Linked DNA regions of Homo sapiens: region 1 is linked to region 2. Evidence: fine-mapped expression QTL. A gene starts in region 2. The other region holds a variant in brackets. All regions are shown on one strand. Distances are between the middles of the regions. Region 1 overlaps AGBL4 (AGBL carboxypeptidase 4). Region 2 holds the start of BEND5 (BEN domain containing 5).

Region 1 (9,864 bases), 20 kb before region 2:
TAAGAAAACTCCAGGAATTGTCCAATTGGTATCTTGAGGCCATGTTGCCTGGTAAGGCTGAAACTATGAAGACATGGTGGGCTTTTAAATTAAGCAGGAAATATTCATCTAAAAGCTCAAGGGTCCTGCAGTCACAGAATGCACTGCAGTACTGGATGGTCTAATGGCCAGCAATGAAGGCCTAATCAGGAGGCAGGCAAAAGGGATGGTGCCACAGAAGCACATGGCTAAGGGACTCTGTGATCAGACTGCCTGACGCATGGCAAAGCAAGAGGGGCCTCAGTTTTGAAACCTGGTTCTACCCTTTCCTGGGTGTGTGGCCTCAGGCAAGTTACCTAATCTCTCTGAGCCTGTTTTATCCACTGCTGAGGTTGTTTTATATATGGAAAGTATTTAGTGTCTGGCCCAAAGCAGGTATTCCTAGAAACCAGGCTTTGCCTGTAATGAACACTTTCCCACCTCCATTTCCTGCCTGGCAAATCCAAAAAAAACATAAGCTTGTCACATGGCAATATGGAAGGCAAAACCCTGCTCTAATGGAGAAACACACTGCTATTCTGACAATGGGGAAAAGCCTAACAACTTCCTCTGGATGTTCTAAATACCTAGGCAGTTGTTAGAAAAGGGACAGCCTGGAGTTGTCCCTCAACCCCATCCCCACTGCCCCCAGGAAAACGGAGTCTAGGGAGAAAGGGGAAGGAGGGTCCTGAATTGTTCGGCCACCCTGAAATCAACTTTTAAAATAATCTGGGATTATTTTAAACTGTGGCTACTTCTGATTTGGGCAACAGTTCAAAAAAAGTCCTTCAAAGTAGAAGATGACTGATATTTTTCAGACAAACTACTCCACTTCTTATTACTAGGTCTCTTCCTGCCATCTGAATTAAGCAGGATACAACAGTTTTTGAAACTGCCCCACCACTAACTCTAAACCGGCAGGCAGACTGTGGGCCTCTTAGGCCTTACCTCCACAAGGGAGATGTAAACATCTAACTAGACAAAATGGCTCTTGTCCACCCGCTTTGGGCCTTTCTCAAAGCCCAACTTTTTTATAGTACTCCTGCTCATTGTGAAAATGAACTGAGGCTGAAAGAGACAGGAAAGAGCTCTGAGATAAACAGGCCCCAAGAAGAGAGTCCTGGCAAAGAGAAGACTGAGCCACAACTAGTGATGTCTAAAAAAATCTAGGAGGTCAAATGGGGTGGTTGAGAGCTAGAGATGGGAAGATGGAATTCTGCCCAGGAAAAGTTGGGCGTGGTAATGGACAAATTCTATAAGCTACAGACCAGTGAGTTTGAAATCAAGTCCAGGCATGGTTGTAAAACAGAGTGTTCAAATATGATTTCTAAGGACTTACAAGGGGAAACAGGAAATCTCTAGGTGTCATCCAGGGTTGACCAAAGATTAAGACATCCCAGACCGTCACATCTGTGTTCTGCTGTAGGACAATGGGTGCCTATGATGTGCCAAGTGCTATATACACATTTTCTCATGCACATCTTCAAATGATTCTATATCTTGATGCAGTACCTACTGAGCACCTACTATATGCCAGCCTCCAGGCAGATGACTTTACTGCATTTATTCATTTACTCCTTTTTTTTTTGGACAGAGTCTCGCTCTGTCGCCAGGCTGGAGTGCAGTGGCATGATCTTGGCTCACTGCAACCTCTGCTTCCCGGGTTCAAGCTATTCTCCTGCCTCAGCCTCCTGAGTAGCTGGGACTACAGGCACGCGCCCCCATGCCCAGCTAATTTTTGTATTTTTAGTAGAGGCGGGGTTTCACCATGTTGGCCAGGATGGTCTCGATCTCTTGACCTCGTGATCCGCCTGCCTCGGCCTCCCAAAGTGCTGGGATTACAGGCGTGAGCCACTGCCCCCGGCCCATTTGCTCCTTTTAAGAACCATAATAGCTGATACTATCATTCACTCTCTTGTACAGATGAGGAAACTAAGGCTGAGGAAGTTAAGTAACTTGCCCGAGGCAACAAAATTTGAATTTGGAAGAGCTGGGGTTGAAAACCTCAGTATTTCTGACCTCAGAGCCCATTAGGGCTCTTAATCACTGAGCTGGTTCTCCTGTCTGTATGTAGTGGGCTTTAAGATACCTAGAGGAGAAAACAGACACCTGAGAAGGGTTAAACAAATGTGTATGAAGTTACACAGGTAATAAATTAAGACAGCTGAGATTCAAACCCAAGTAGTATCTGTTGCTGAAGCCCAGGTTGTCTCCAGTACAGGAGAAAACCAGCAAGAAGCATTTGGCTGACATCAGCTGCCTTTTCTAAGGCACCATCAGAGACCTGGGCTTAAAGAAACCAGTTCAGACTGCAAAGGATTTTAAAGATCAAAGCTGGTATTTTAGCGGACCTTGGACAGCACACAAGGCACAAACCCAGAGGGTTACAGAGGTATTAGTGATCCAGCTCTAAAAAGTTGAAACAGATATGCAGGCCACAATGGCTTTCTCCTTTTTCAAAACTTTCAGCCAGCTTATGATCTAGCCAACAGGACATTTTCTCTTCTTTTTGCATTCTCCTCTCTAAAACGGAGATAATAATCCCTACCTGGCTTGCAATAAGACTATCGGAATTGTCCAATGAGATAAAAATGTCAAGGTGCTTTAAAACCTGTAAAATGCCATGCACATGTGAATTACTGTTATTACTCTAGTTATCTATGCCTCTTCTGGTTAGAATTCATCATTTTTGCCTATATTCCCTGACAAAGCACACACAAAATCTAAAACCATCATCTGCCTCCCTCCTGCAATTAGAGCACTGATTTTATTTGCCTGGTGTCACACTGCGTACATATTTGTGTTCCCTGTGAGACTTGTGTGCATCCTGAAGGCAAGGATTATGTCTGCTCCTCTTTGTATTCCTCACAGAGCCCTTGAGAGTCTTATTTGAACTAATGTTACCCGAGTCACACCACAATGAATTATACTGTCTAAGTGGTACTTACAGTGTAACAAACTGGGGAGGACACCGTAGCCTTGGACTTTGCCTTCTAAGAACAGGGAATCTAGCTGAGGAGAAACCAAGAGAGACCCTAGAATTTACTCCATTCTCACACATGGGGGCTTACCCTCCCCCAACTGGGTCTCTATTGTTCTGCTTCCCTTCATCCCCTAAAATTCTCTGTGGCTGCCAACACCCGGTTTAAACACACCATTCTAATCTACTTGTGCATTGTTTTTTAAAAAGGCACTCTGTCTTGTTCATTACGTTATTCCCAGCACCTAACCCAGTCCTGGAACAAAGGATACCCTCGATAACTGTTCACTGAATAAAATAAATAATGAATGAAGGAATATACATAGAAAAACATCTGTACCTTGTACATTGGAATGTCACCATGCTTTTTGCATCCTCGGCATTTACTTATTTGGGGGAGGAGGGGCAGGAAAGGGAGAAAAAGGAAAAGGGGACTGGCATTTATTGAACACTTACAATATGGGGGTCACGGGGCAAAAGTTTACATATGCAAATTACATATGCTTCCTTATTTAATTTTGACAGTGGAGGAAAGTGAGGTTCCTTCCCATCAGAAAGGGTTGTTTACCATGCTAAGATCACAGACAAGGAAAGTTCTGTTTTACAGAGAGAGATGATATCCTTTGTGGGGAGTAAAGGGGATGGAGGAGACACCCCCATGTTGGGAAAAATGAAGTCTAAGAGCTAAAGAAGGCCATACGGGTGAGGGTCTAGAGAGAGGCACGCAGGACCAGGGGTCAGAAGACCCTTAGGAATAAGCCAGTGACACTTTTTGGGCTTGTTTCCTCATCAGCAAAATGACGGTGACAGTCTATAGCCTAAGTTCTTTCACAACTCCATGCCTCCATGTTGGAATACTTCCTGTTAAATCCATCTTTTCTTGTGTGTGGAATGAATGAAAGAATGAATAAATGTACAAATGAAGACGTGTACGATTCAGTGAAGCCTCTGAAACATACTCTCTTGCTGCTATCCCCCACCCTTGGGTGTGGCTCCACCTTTCTGACCCCAACCTTTCCAAGGTGCGCCATTACAACTCCTGGCTGCTGACGGACCTGCTTCCCACTCTGAGTCCCCATCAGTCTGAAAAGACCAGGCGGCTGCTCTCCACTACCATCTACCATTCGTAGGACCCCACTACCTCGGTGAGTAAATAATGATTCTTCCAGACAGGTAGATTTCTTTTGAAAACTGAGCACCTCCTGACCTGTTGGCCTCCCTCGTCTCTGAATTTGTGTGAATGATCCAGCACCCAAGCTAGACAAAGGCCTTTGAGCTAGGCCCCTAGCTGAGGTGGACAAAAAATGAAAATACTCAAGGATATGCCTCCAGGAGCAACACTCAAATGAGGCCCAGGGGGCAGAGAACGGCAAAGCCTGGGCCCTACATCAACCCTAACCCAGGACATGTTTCTCAGAGGGCAACTGAAGCCGAGAGTCAAACAAGGGTCTCTCATTCGCTTTCTGGTTGTTCTCTGCCTTCTTAGTGGTGTTTATAGATCAGGATCTGTTACAGCAAGGGGATATCTTACCAGACTTTCCAAGAGAGACTTCTCCCTTCAGACGCTAATCTCTCTCCCAGAACTGGCACTCTGCGTTTTAATAACATGTTTACCTCCATCACTACCCTCTCCCTACTTCCCAATGTCTTAATCTTCTTTGTATCTCCCTAAGTTCCTAGGCTCAGAAAGCATTTGGTCAATGTTAGCTGACTGATTGAATAAACAAATGAACAAACATATATAACCCCTCTTATCTTCAATATTGTAAGAGGATACTGAGGCAGAGAAGTTAGTTAACCTGCCCAAGGTCATATAGCCAACTACTGGCTGGGGGTGCCCGAGTTAAAAGCCAAAGTTAACCCTGTCTTAGCTCCTCCATTACATGATGTTGAACAGGAGCTAACAGTAATCAAGCATTAACAGAATGTCAGGCACTATGCGGTGTGTCACAAGGCTGTAATATTATCATTCCCATTTTACATATGAGAACACTGAGGGTCAGAGACATACATGCTCTTTGCCTAAATTGCTCCTTACTCTCCCCATCTACTGATTCCTGTTTGGGTAACAAAAATTCATCATTCAGGCTTCAGCCTAAAAGTTGTTTCCTTCAGGAAGCCTTCCTTCTCTGAC[C/G]CCTCAAAATCTGGTGGGTAATCCCCTCTGCTGTCCCACAGTCCTCTATGGTTTTGTCCCTATGATGGCATTTATGTACTGTGCTGTCATTGATTGTTTCAGGATCTGTTCCCCTCATCAAACTTTAAACTCCTCAAGGGCAGAGGGCAAGGGCTGTATTGCAAATATACTGAATTCTTACACTAGGCTAGGTCCCTGGCATGTAGCAGGAGACCAGCAAGTATTCATGGAAGAAAATAAGGTCATAGGAAAGGAAGGAAGAAAGGAAAGAAGGACATGAGCTTCCCAAAGCCACAGAGTTGGGAAGTAGGGAAGTTGGGATTTGAATCCAAGCCGTGAAAACATACAACCTCCTCTTAAGGGTAGAGATCCTTTTATTTTATTCTTGCGGATTTGTCTTGGAAGTTGGCACATTAGCATCCTCCTATTAACATGTGTTAATCAATAGACTTTTAAGCTTTCACTGATGAGAGACAGTGGGTGTGATTTTCCAGGATGCCTGTAGCCCTGAGAGGATAGGGTGGGTGGTCTATGCATACTTGGGGCTCCAGTTGATTTATGTTGAGTCCAACCCATTGTAATGATGATGGTGACTCAGATCAGGGAAGAGCTAGCCACTGGCCTGTGCAATGGCCTTCAAGGCCTGTGGGATGGGAGAGCCTAGAAAGATCAAGACACTGAAACTATGCTTCAGGTCAAGTTTTTCTACATGTTTTAGGACTAAAAGAGGCATATAATGATGTAAAATGCAGGGTGTCTTACCACCCCAGAGGCTTAGGAGTGGTTTCTAGAGTTTAAACTCAGTTCATAATCATGAAAAACAGGTAGTTTCCCTGGGAGTTGAATTAAGTACCAAGAATTTCTGTTTTTGGTGTACTTCCCCACAAGCCCCCAAGAAGTTCATAAAAGGCATAGCATACAAAGCACACTGAAAATGCAAATTATTCACTTTAAGATTGGGAAACATTTTTTCTCTCTGAAAATTTCAGTTATCCCCATCCCCCATCACCACTACAAGAACAATACAGCTTTTACAAATTTTTACATTTATGATTTCTCTTTGAGATTTTATTTTAATAAAGAACTTTACTAACTTTTGAAGTTGCAAACCATATGCGACTTTTCGTGTCACTGTGAACCTCTGTAGACTATGATTTGGGACAATGGCCAAGGCAATGGTAGAGTTGGGGAGTGGACAAAGTCCAGCCTATGAATTGAGTGACTAGAGTTGAGACAGAACTCTACCTCTGCCTCCCTAAGTAACTCTGGGGAAGTCCCAATGTCATTTCCTTTTCTATGACAAGGGCATGAAAGGCCTCTCTGCTGACTTCTTGGACCACCCAAAGATCTACTGAGCCACTACCTTGGGGATATACTTTAAGAAGCAAATGACACCTACAAATATAAGTAAATTAGGGTAAGAATAAATCAAAGAAGAATGAAGCTTCATATCTAAATATATTATCTAGATAATGAAAACCTTCACAAGGGCAAAATTGTATTTTATTTAAACTTTGGGGATATTTCTAGACTAGATTACCACCTTCTTCAAGCAAAGCACACTGACTCAGAGTTATTAATTACTGTCTTCAGGGGCTATGGAGGCAAAGAACTTGTGTTATACCGATTTCCTCAATATTGACTGGGCTCTATCTTTTACAGTTCTGGATTCTTATATTCTAAAAGCATTTTTCTGTCTTTTTCTCTCTGGTAAGCAGTCATTTCTTCCGGCAGTCAAAGCTGCTGCCTTTCAGGTTTCTCGATCCCTGCTTCTAAACCACTTTAGATCAGAAAACCTGATTAGTTAAAATAGGGTGCAATATAAGAACCTATTAAGTTCTATGAGCAAACCAAAGGAGTTTTATACGTCTTTATATTCATCTTCCTAAGGTCATGTGCCTCCCTGCTCAAAGCTTTCTAATGCTTTCCATTCCTACCAAAACAAGTCCAGACATCCCAGGCTGGTAAAGTTTTCAAGTCCTTCCATCTTCTGTCCTCAAAGCACATTTGCATTATTCCTCTTAGTGTGCTCCAGGTATTTGCCCATGCTCACCAGTGCTGCTCAGCCTCCTCTTGTGCCTTGAAACACTGCCCAACCTTCAAAGCTCAGTTTCTTACTGAAGTCTCTCCATGCCCTCAGTTACAAATAACCTCTCCAACCCCTGAATTCTCATATCATTTTGTCAGCATTCTCCTTTGGCATTTATCACTTTCTGACTTAAACTAATACATGTTGTTAGGATCATGTCTACTTCTTTTTACTATCCTGAAACCTCCTTGGAGAGGTTCCCTACGATCCCTGTTACTGCCTCCTGCTGAATGAATGCATAAGGGACTGAGCAGTGACAAATATTTTGTCAGCTCTTAGTCTCTGACCCATGTTCGCCAATGTTCCCATAGCTGAGGCTGCTGCATACATAAGCTCCTACCAGATTCACTATGAGTGGGGAGTGACTCTTCCTTGAGGTAACTGGTAAGCCAAGAGTCTGTCCTTCCCTAGCCTCAGGGCACTTGGTCTCCCTCTCCCCTTTCCCTTCCTGGAAGAGGATCTGCATGAAGTATTTCACCCAAGTGGAGTGGTAGGTGACCTGCTGGGGCACTCACCGCTGCCAAGCCGCAGGAGCAGCACGTCCTGGAGCCTCCGGTTAAGGTCACGGAGCTCCTTCATTTCAGACACAAGTGCCCCGTACTCCTTGAGCTTCTTGGCCTGTTGTACCAGCTGCCTCCGAGTCCGCTCCAGCTCCTGCTGGAGGTGGCGCATCTCTTCCTGTTGCTGCTGGTAGTTGCGCAGCAGCTCCTCATACAGAGCCCGGGGCACCACAGCATCTTCTAGACTGTCCATGTCCTCTGTGCCTGGCGAGGCCTCCACGAAGACCTCTTCCGGACACGTGCTATGGCCCAGGCTCAGGCCGTTCTGCTTCTCTAGCCGAGCCACCACTGCCTCGATGCTCTTGTGCGCCACTTCGCTCGGCTTCCGCCCCTCAGGTCTCTGTGTAGGACAACGAGAATCAGTTCAGGCAAGGGCAGCTGGGATTTTCTTGGACTGCAGATCAATATTTCCCCAGACAATCCTAAAATCACAGAATCACAGAACATCAGTGCTTGGAGAAACCTGTGCAAACACTTAGTCAAAGCCCTTCATTTTATAAATGGGGAAACATTTTATAAATTTTATAAATGGGGTTCCGAGTGGGGAAGGGGCTTGCCCAAAGTCATAACCAGGACACTGGTTTCCCAGGCCTGCACTTTTTCCTTTTCACCACTCTGCCTCCTGGATGCATATACCATGACCACCCTTCCCAACTCCCCAGGCCCCAGCCCACCCACAATGCCTAGGCAGTGGCTTGCTCATGGGGGTGTTCAATATGTATTTGTGGAGAATCAGGGAGAAATGAGGCCAGGCCAAGTGATCCCAGAGGACTCACAAATGTCTTCAACAACAAAAACATAAAATTCCTCCCCTAAAGGCAATTCACCATGTAAACTTTTCATCGACAATGCTTTAGATGGAAAGGATGTTAAAAACTCTAATCTACTCTAATCTAGAGCAGAAAACATGTCTTATTTTCTCTGTTTCTCCTCTGCCTACTCACTCAGAACTGGCACTCAGTAGGGGCTTGAAAAATGTTTACTCAACTGAAAAGTTCAAAGAATTCTAGCATTGAAAGGTACTTTCAGTTTAACTGCCTCATGTTACAGGTGAGAAAACTGAGGGTCAGAGAGTTCAGGGAAGGACTACACTTAGGGTCACATAGTGAGATACAAACAGAGCCAAAACCAGAATTTGGAATCTAACTTCCAGTACAAGGCTCCTTCCAGACTCTCCTCAGCAAGACAGTGGATAGAGAGAAGAAAGTTCATTTACAAGAGAATTATCCAGGACCCCCTCCAGAGCTTGGGGTTCCACTGCCTAAGGAAATTCTAGCTCAAGTAGCTACAGCTTCTACTGAGGGGCAGTGAGAGTTACAAGATCAAATGAATTCTTCACTCAGGGCAGGAGGGTTAGGAGCTCTCCTGACTGGGGCATGTGTAGGAAGTGCAGACAACTGAGGACATGAGATTCCAGGCAGTTCTAAGTTTCAGGAAATTTAAGGAAAACCAAACCAAATCAAACCCAGCCCAATGAAACCATGACTCTGATATTGTGTTACATGACAAAATCGTAAGTCGTTTTATCTGCTGAGATAAGGTGCTACTAGTGTAGATGAATTTATCATTTATCTAAAGTGATCGTTACAATATGTCTGCGTCACTATAATGTGAGACCCCTGGAGGCAAGGACCATGTCTGGCTAATGGTTCCAGGTACGAGCACAGGGCCAGGCGCATAGCAGGAGTACAATGAATGCCATGAACTGAACTCAGCTACATTCCTTGGGAACACCCTCAACCTTGTGACCAAAATCAGACCATGGTCAATGCAGAAGACATCCCACTTCCTTATCGTCCTTCTCCCTTCCTCTCAGGTATCTACTGCACAGAAAAAAACAGCTAGCTTGCCGAACAAGATTTTCAGCAGTTTCCAAAGTGAAGGCTGGAGACCAACTGGGGCACACAGCAAGAAAATGCAACCTCATGCAAATGTTTTCATCTAACCCGAGGTCTCACAAATCCCTTCTGTGAACCTCGTGCACTTCCCAATGAGTCCAGCCTTAGCTATCTGGGGCACTCTGACAGTGACTGGCCCTAAACTTCTCCCCAAGAACATCTGTTTAACGTTCTTGGAGCTTAGC
Region 2 (9,864 bases):
CAAAACACCACATAAAAAGCAACTTGCCTGGGACAATTTTTTATTTCTGCTTATGAACCAGAACTCTGAAGCACTCTGTAGCACATACTATTTAGCTGTAAAAATTGGTGGTTGTTGAACATGAGAAATCACATTAGACTGAACCCTCAATGGTTAACATCCCAGTAGAATCCGCAACAGATGACAGCAGGCAATTTCCAATCTTTGCTCCAATGTATATCAGCAAAACATGTCAAAACCTAAATTAAAAGTTTTCACTCACTTTTTTCAAGAAAATAAATCCTTTTGTTGGCAGTTTCCCACTGATGACACGCAACAATCTTTGCATATGAAATCGGCTAGTCCTCTGCTTCACTGCTAACTTTGTAGAAGTTCCAAAGCATTTCTGGAGCAAATGATCTATTTGGACTAACAATGCCAAGCTGGGACCTGAGCCCTGAATGAGCTAAAATTACCAAAGCAATAAGAACATGGCTTTGGAAGCTATTTCCCCCAAGTGTGGGGTTTCTTCTAGCTAGTTGAGGGAGTGATAAAGAATGTTGACTTCTTCCAGATGAACAAAGTTGAATGAAAACTTAAAATCCTACGGCAGGTTTCTGTTCTGAAAAACAAGCTGCTGCTGCAGAGGTTCCTATCTCCCCTATTTCCCTCTCCTCAAGCACAAAAATGCACCTGTCTTCCCAAAGTTGATGAGTTCAACATGGGCACACCAGTGCAGACTATATGCTGGGCACTGAGGATGCAGGCACAAGGAAGCCAGGCCCCTGTCCTAGAGGAGTTCCCTGTCAGGCAGGAAGAGAGGCACATTCATGACTAATAAAAACAAGACATAAAATGCTACAATCCATAAGCAAGGCAAAACCAAAGTGAAAAGAGAGTTCTGAGGAGGGAGAGAGTCTCTCTTGGGCGCAGAGGGAGGAATAGGGACTACCACTGAAGCAAGGTCTCCAAATGTACTTTGTCCACTCCTTTATCACAGGTGGAGGGGGGCTGGACCACAAACTTCTGTCACATGTCTACCTTCCCCACCTGTAGGTGAGCTCCTTGCAGGCAGAGGCCCCATATCAGACAATGATTAATCCACCTTGGCTGGCTCAAAGGAGTGCGAGAGAGTGTGTTCACAGAAGAGTAAAAAATACCATAGGTCTCAGGGAAAGGGGAAGAGAGAGTGAGGCTGGAGAAGTAAGGTGGGGCTGGGATAGAGCTGGTCTAAGGAGGGCTATGAATGCCAGGCTAAGAAACTAAAACTTTTTTCAGTAGGCAATAGGGAGCTACAGAAGGTTCTAATGAGAGCAGTCAACTAAGACTGTGTTTTAGAAGATTATTCTAAAAGCAATTGGGAAAATAGATCAGAGACATGGTAATCAATTAGAAGACTGCTTCAATAGTTTAGATAAGAGCTGATGCTGACCTGAATGCAGGCAGTGATGGTGGAGCTGGAAAAGAAAAACTTAAAAGATAAACTGCAAAGCCCACCTTGAATTGGTCCATTCTCTGTGTTTCCCCAGTGCCTGGCTTCTACCTTTATTTAGCACTTACTTTGAGGCCCCCAAATTACACACTCCCTGAGGATGATACCCATTTCTTTTCCATCACTCCCTCCCCCACAGAAATCCTACATAGCAGGACATGAAAAGTCAACGCCTGCCACCCCTGGGTCGTGCTGTCATTTCAATCACAGTACCTGAGATGCATAGGTGCACTGGTATATTCACTTAATACAGCACTGGGCCTGGCATACAGAAAGCAGTAAGGAGACATCTGAAACAAAAAAATTCAGCACACTCAAACAACAGTAACAGAGCACAGGTGCCTAGATAGAACAACTTAAAATTTTAGGGCTCTAGGCACAGAGAAACCAGTTTGAGCCTCCTAAAAAAAAAATAAAATTCAACACTATGAGCCCCAGTAGCAGGCTGGATTGCAGTTAGATGATGGTGAGCTCTCCAAATGAGTAGTTCTCACTTTCACAACCTGCTTGGCAAATAAATGAGAGTAAAGAGAGAACAGAGGTCAAAGGTGAGTCAAACTTTGAGTTATGTGGACCCTCCAAGAGGGACAGCCTTAGTGAAGATTTATTCAAGCAAATGCCAACTGAAGAGATAGGCGGGTGGGGGACAGCTGTGTGTGCTCTGTAAGAGGGAGGATGGTAATGGAGAAAGAGCAGAATGGGCTTGAAAACTCAGAAACTAAAATTATACTCTGGCTTGAAAACTTGCCTTGAGCTGTAAGCTTCATGGACAGTTTTTCCATTTCCTTTCACTCCTTCCAAATCATGCTGTGTAGCTGATGGGAACATCGGCTACTTTACAAAGGAGACTGCCAAGTGGGGGCCTGGCACTGGAAGACCTGTGTTCCAATTCCAGCCTTGCCATTTATTAGCTGTGTGGCTGTAGGCAAGTCTCTGAGCTTCGGTGTCCTCATCTATGAAATGGAAATACTAACCACAGCAATACCTACCAAAATGTCACTTAGAGGACTAACAGAGATAATGTGTAGGCATATAGCAAGACTATCAGGAAAGAAGGAGTTTTGTTTTTCCTTGAACTGGGATTGTAATTTGATAAGTAGTGGTATAAACCACCTACTATGGGCAGTAAAATGTAAAGTCCCACAGCAGTCGGCTTTGACATTTCCTGAGTATAAAAAGAAGTATACTTCAAGACAGCTCTGGGCTGGCTTGGGCCAACACTCAGTATAGCAACATACTTCTCACCAAAAGCCAGAAAGCTGTGCTGAAACTACCTTGGAAACCATTCTATTTGTGTCAGAGAGATTAATTAATCAATTAATAGCTAATCCACAAACATAAAGCCACCTCTGCTTCCCACTTGAGGGGATTCCTCCTCACACCTGGTGCCATAGCACAGTGGTATTTACATATAGGAGATGCCAGATGAGCTCTCTGAAGTCACTGTAAGCAATTCTCAGAGCCACCAAGTTTAAGTCAGGAAGGGGTTTGAAGATACATAGGAGTTATTCCAGGGTAATGAATTCCCGAACTCACCCTGGCCCTTCGATCAGGTCTCTATGCAGGGCAGTGGGTACCCAGGAGATCAAAATTCAAAATGTGGTTTGGCCAACTTCAAGTTGTTGTCTTTTTTTCCCCTTTCTCCTCCCAAGAAAAAAACTGAAGAGAGGTAAGGGGAAGTGTTTTTCAACTAATTCAAACTGGCACACTTCTTTGAACCTACTCTGCCAGTTTCCAAATGATGCTTGGGTTTTTTAAATAACCATACAGATTTATCAACATTCTAACTTGGAGGATGAACAGTCTACAGGTTCAAAATTCATGGTTCTCAAACCAACAGCTACATGTATCTTGCTTCTGAGGACTTGTGTCGATTTCAAAATCAGAGCTGGTGGGAGCTGCCATCTGCCTAAGTGGCCTCTCTGCAGTGCCTGAAGAGTCAAGCACAGTGTATATGTATGTTTGCTGAATGAATGAGTAGATGAATGAAACAATCTCCAAGAGAGGAAAACAGCCATTACACACTAAGAAACTTATCACTGACTCTCTTTAACACATCACTTCTACTCTCCTAGGACCCTTCCAGATCTAGGAGTACAATACAATCGTCAAGAAGCATGCATGCATTTTCTTCTAGCAAAAGGGAAGCTAAGGTTACAACCTAGTTATAACTTCCTCAAGCCTATCGTCTTGGGAAATAAATTCCTAATCCTTTCCCTCAGGTAATTAAAGGCAAGTAAGCAAACAAAATAAAACCTAATCAGCTATGAATGGTTCCCTTTTCTAAAATCTGCTTCCCCTCCCTCAGTTTCTTTGGCCCTAGGTGTCTGGCAGTGGGTGGGCCTACACTTCGGTGTGCCAGGGCTTATCAGGGAGGTGGTATGGATAGAGCCTGTCAAAAAGGGTCCAAGTGCTGCTGGTCAGTTTCCAGTTCTTCCACTCTTCAACTTCTGCAAACCGATTTTTCAGAGGCAACATGAGTTGTGAGACTGAGCTAACTTGCCATGAGACCCTGGGCAAGTCTCTATGGGTTGAGAGAATGTTGGGTTCATCTTTTAGGCTAAATGTGAGGAAGCAAAGGAACTTGAAAAAAATAGAGAAGGTCTCAAAATTACAAAACATCTTCATTCAGTCACTAACCCTTCGTGTTCTTTCTGGTAGAAGGCAGGAACACTATTTGCCCACTTTAAGGTTCATTCTCCTTACCAGCAGGAGCTAAAAAGGCTGCTCCCCAAAACGGAGATGATACTTCCCCCTTCCTTGCTTGTCTAGACTCAAACTTTCTGGAACTAGCTGGGAAAGAGGGCCAGCTGTCTTCTCTTTACAAAGGAAAAGGTGTCTCAGCATGGCAGGAAGAACTGGAGCATAGGAGGATAAAGGGCTGGTTTCTTTCCCTATCACCAACTGAACCTCAGTACCCTCATCTACGAAATGGAGATGAGACTAGCTGCCTTAGCCCATCTCTCAGGGCCCTGGCAGGGCAGGGATGAGAGGTCCAGTGTTATTCTGACCCAGAAACTCTCTCCTGGCCCTCAACTCTCTCATTCAGGGAGCCTTCTGGGAGATTCAGAAAGGGGTGTGGAGGCTGAGGGATGCCTTAGGGCCTCTACCTCCTTACCTCTGCCACCTGGCCAGGGAGGGGCAGGAGAGTGTGGTGTGGAGCCCAGTGCACTGAGGTTCATGGCCTCCTCATCCTGTCCAATGTTGGCCCGGATGGGACAAGGATGTCATAGCTTCCCTCTGTGAGGAGGGACTCCCACCTAGAAGATCTGACAATATCCTTCTTGCTCCTCACTCCAAGGAGGTACCAACAGCCTTTAAAGGGAGAGAGACAGACAGCTTGAGAAACTTAATTCTTGACAGAAAAGAACAGAGGGAAGGAACTGGGAGAGAGGTAAAGAGAAGGTGAGAGAGAAATGACGGTACAAACAGGTAGGGAGAAAAATGGAAAGTGAAGGAACGAAGAAAACACAAAGAATCAGAAAGAGGAGGACAGACACAGATGAAGAGATGAAGACGGACTGACAGCGCGGGAGCTTCGGGGAAGCGGGGAAGACAAAGGGGACCATCCGGTCTTTTTAACTGGCCTGGCCTCTTAGAGACACCCCGTTCCCAAATGAAATGCCCAGAGGACGGGAGAAGGAGGCAGGAAGGAGCAAGCAGTGGCTCCCCCCGGTCCCCTCCGCCCGGGCCCCCGGCCCCTCCCGGGGTCCCAGCCCCCGCCCGGGTCCCACCGTCCCTCCCCGCCCGCTTGCTCACCTGCCAGCGCCAGGATCTGGGCCTTGTGGAGCAACAGCGCGCCCCAGTCGCGGGGGGCGCGCGGGGGGCTCTCGGGCCCGGCGCCCAATTCCTCCGGGCCCCGGTACACGGCGTACACCTTCTGGTTGTCAAAATCCAGCCGCGAGCGGGGGCTGAAGTCGCGCACGCACGACACGGGCAGCGCGTAGCAGACGTTGTCCTCCAGGAACCGCACAAAGGCGTACATGGTGGGCGCCGGGGGCGGGCCCCGGTCGGGCAGCTCAGCCCGCGGGGCGGGCGCGGAGGTGGGGATCCGGCGGGGGGCGCGAGTCTCGCTACGGTGCTGGGGGGGGCGGGGGCGGCTCCCCAGGACCCAGGCTCCCCCCACTGTTATTGTTCCTGAAAGCACCGTTCTGCCAATCGGCTGCTTTCGCCTGGGCGCGGAAAAGGGAGGGAGGGGGGGAAAGGGGGACGAGGGGCGGATGAGGGGGGTTTGGAAGCGCACTGCCACTTGCAAAGTCAGACCCGAGCAATCACAGCCGGAGCGCGATTCGAATGGGGAGGGAAAAGGGTTCAGAGATTCAGTTGCAATAAAAATAATAACAAGAGCATTGCAGGAAAAAAATGCATTGATTAAAAGGTGCGCTGCGTGCAGGATTATATTGCTTCAACAATCGCGCTGCCAAATTGCATTGCAACAAAACTGCATTGCCAAGTAGAGAAGTGTATGAGTGAGTGAATGCGGGATAGGGGTGGGGGCAATCTTGATTGAATCTCAAAGTGTAAACTTGGAAGCCAGCAGAAGTTTGGAGTGTTTTAAATGTAGCCACCCTACCCGCGCCCCCAGCCCCGCACCCTCCCCGCGCCTTTCCCAGCCCTTAGTTTGGCCCCGCCTTTTCTTTGCTTTCTTTCTTTTTGTTTGTTTGTTTGTTTGTTTTGTTCTGCAAAACTGCCAGCTCCCTCTGTGGAAAGGGTCAGTCAGACAGAAAATTTCCCCTAGAGCTGCCAAACCAGTTCTGACCAGAACTGGGGCTTATCTGAGATTTCCAGTTGTGCCAGCTGGCTGGGGAGGTGGAAGGTTTGTCAAGGGCTGCTCTCATCTGAGGGAGCAGTGGCGCCCCTCTCCTCTATAGTCTTTCTCCATTGAGATACCCTCTCCACAGCACGCCCACCACTGAGCAGGGACAACTTGGAATCGCGGAGGGAGTTGAGGAGCGCTCTGGGTAACACAGGCCCAAGGCTAGGGATTTCTGGAGCACTTTGAAGAGTACAGGAATAGTACTCCATGGAATAGCGGTCTTTGCTCTGTCTCTTGCCAAAGAGAGCCTGGAGGGGCTTGGGTCCCCTCCAAGACAAGCCGTGAGGACCAGCCAAAGGGGGCTGATTGGGCTCTGTACTCATAGGAACCCTATCCCACATCAGAGGAGGTCAGTACCTTCACAGGGATGCCTCGTATCAAATATGGCTAGTTATATTTCTGTTGCCTAGCCAGACCTGGCACTTGACAGGGAGTTAATGAATTTTGGGTAAAGAAGAATAAATAAAAACCCACATCCATCCATCCATCCATCCATCCATCCATCCATCCATCCATCCAACCATCCATCCATCTGTTCATTCATTCCTTTATTCAAGCAACCAATATTCACTGAGTTTACACCACCTGCCAGATTCTGGGCCAGGTGCTGGTGATAGAAATGAAAAGATAAACACCTGGATTCTTGGGCCTTGCAAAGTCAGTGTACCAGAACTTGAATCTCAGTTTTGGGTTCCTGTGCCAAAATTAGGTAACTGTATGAATAACATACCTTTCCCATCCTCACAACCTTTACAATCTAGTCTAGGAGTATTAAAGAAGTATAAGCAAGTAATGACAGTATAATGAGAAAAGTATTGTCATAGAGGAATGCTTAATGGAGGTGTTGGACTCAATTAAATGTTATATTTTTAAAAATTCATCTTAATAAACTTTAGCTGTAAGAAAAAAACAGAATAAGTGCACCAAAATGTTAATAGTGATTTTTTTAGCTTCTTAGTAGTGGTAGATGATTTTGTTTTTCCTTGTATTCATTGTGTGTGTGTGTGTGTATGTAACTATTTTCCACAATGTTTTATTACTTTATCATCAGAAAACATCAAACATTATAAAATCAAAGCACTGTGCTCATATTTCACATCAGCTGCACTGACAATGAGGCAGATATTTATTTCACTGTGAAATAGACAGTGCGTTATATAAGTGAATCCCATCAACATATAGCTCTCATATCCAAATGTGTAGGTCAGTACAAATTTTTTTAAACCAACCCACTGGTTATGTGGTACAGCCAAAAATGACCACCACTTGTCCTGATGCAGCTGTTGGTCTTATCTTGCCCCACAAGCTTGTGGAAAAAAAAGGAGCCACTCTGAGTTGTTCCAGCACATTTACTGTCATGATTATGATTTCTTTGGACTGATCCTCAGTGAGTTTTTATTTTAAGAATACATTCCTATGGTGGTCAAGGGGAAGTAATGTGCAGCAAGACTTCTGATAATTCACAAGATGGATCATGCAGAGTTGGCCGTATTTAACAAAAGTCCTTGAAGCTCCGGACTATGTTCCCAAAATGATTTCAAGTAGCCAATGGCCAACCTCCTCTCTGCATCTAAATGGGGGTGACCACAAAACATTACCAATCTCATCTCTTACTACCTTCCCAGACACAGTACACTCCAGACACCTAAACTATTTGACATTTCCAAAGATAGCATGTTTTAGCAGGTCCCAAGCTTTTGTGCTTTTTCTGCCTTCATCCTGGGAAGTTCTTCCTTCCTCAACTTACCCTGAAAATCAGCTCAAATGTCATTGCCTTTGTGAAGCCTTTCCCAACCACCCACACTTTTCAAGGATAGCCTATCTCTTTCTACTACAATATTTTGTCCCAGCACTTTTTATCTTCCCTCACTAGAATAAGAGCTCTTTGAGGGGAGGCAAAGGCTGAGTAACTTTAGCATCCCAGGTACCTAGCACAGGGCTGGGGAGTAAATGTTTATAAAACAAATGTATTAAAGAAGGACATAAAGAGAGCATGAATAACAAACCTCTTGCACATTTTTTCTTGAAAGTCTGTTCCTCTCTTTTTTTTTTTTTTTTTTTTTTTCTTGAGACGGAGTTTCGCTCTTGTTGCCCAGGCTGGAGTGCAATGGCCTGGTCTCGGCTCACTGCCACTTCCACCTCCCAGGTTCAAGCGATTCTCCTGCCTCAGCCTCCCAAGTAGCTGGGATTACAGGTGCTCGCCACCACGCCTGGCTAATTTTTGTATTTTTAGTAGAGACGAGTTTTCACCATGTTGGTCAGGCTGGTCTCAAATTCCTGACCTCAGGCAATCCACCCTCCTCGGCCTCCCAATGTGCTGGGATTACAGATGTGAGCCACCGCGCCCGGCCTTTATTATTATTAATATTATTATTATTATTACACTTTAAGCTCTGGTATACATGTGCAAAACATGCAGGTTTGTTACATAGGTATACACATGCCATGATGGTTTGCTGCACTCATCAACTCATCAACTACATTAGGTATTTCTCCTAATGCTATCCCTCCCCTAGTCCCCCAGCCCCCCACCCCCCTACAGGCCCCGGTATGTGATGTTCCCCTCCCCGTATCTATGTGTTCTCATTGTTCACCTCCCACTTATGAGAGAGAATAGGACACAAACAAATGAAAAAACATTCCATGCTCATGGATAGGAAGAATCAATATTGTGAAAATGGTCATATTGCCCAAAGTAATTTATAGATTCAATGCTATCCCCATCAAGCTACCATTAACTTTCTTCACGGAATTAGAAAAAACTACTTTAAATTTCATATGGAACCAAAAAAGAGCCCATGTAGCCAACACAATCCTAAGCAAAAAGAACAAAACTGAGGCATCATGCTACCTGACTTCAAACCATACTAGAAGGCTACAGTAGCCAAAACAGCATAGTACTGGTACCAAAACAGGTATATAGACCAATGGAACAGAACAGAGGCCTCAGAAATAATGCCACACATCTACAACCATCTGATGTTTGACAAACCTGACAAAAACAAGCATTGGGGAAAGGATTCCCTGTTTAATAAATAGTGTTAGGAAAACTAGCTAGCCATATGCACAAAACTAAAACTGGACCCCCTCCTTACACCTTATACAAAAATTAACTCAAGATGGATTGAACACTTAAATGTAAGACCTAAAACCATAAAAACTCTAGAAGAAAACCTAGGTAATACCATTCAGGACATAGGCATGGGCAAAGACTTCATGACTAAAACACTAAAAGCAATGGCGACAAAAGCCAAAATTGACAAATGGGATCTAATTAAACTAAAGAGCTTCTGCATAGTCTGTTCCCCTTTTTAAGGGTTGATGCTGAATCCCAACTCTGCCTTTCCCATTCCCAGTGATCGAAGGGCAGAAGAACATTGATTCTACCACTTGTAAGACAGACACATTCATTAACATATTAAATATCACTGCACCCTGGGGTTCAAATTCCCTACCCATGTCACTGTAAATCATTCCTATAAGGAGGCAGTTCCATTTTCCGATAACCCAGAAAGAGGAAAAGAACAGACGATGGACCCGGATGCTGACAGAGTAAACACAGATCAAAACACATGTT

What was found. PIP is the estimated chance that this variant, and not a neighbour inherited with it, causes the effect.
Region 1: its variant is fine-mapped to the expression of BEND5 in whole blood (TOPMed, PIP 0.94).

What each region holds. Positions count from the first base shown.
Region 1 is chr1:48,751,164-48,761,027 of GRCh38, forward strand. All of the region lies in intron 6 of AGBL4 (AGBL carboxypeptidase 4), which reads right to left. It overlaps BEND5 (BEN domain containing 5), which reads right to left. Exons shown (of 6, transcript NM_024603.4): 3 at 7,737-8,121. Among named protein-coding and RNA genes, the nearest start is that of BEND5, 21 kb to the right of the region's middle. The variant C/G (reference allele first, on the strand shown) is at 5,133.
Region 2 is chr1:48,771,376-48,781,239 of GRCh38, forward strand. BEND5 (BEN domain containing 5) reads right to left here and starts at 5,516. Exons shown (of 6, transcript NM_024603.4): 1 at 5,231-5,516. The coding sequence starts at 5,456. The region is part of intron 6 of AGBL4 (AGBL carboxypeptidase 4); the gene reads right to left.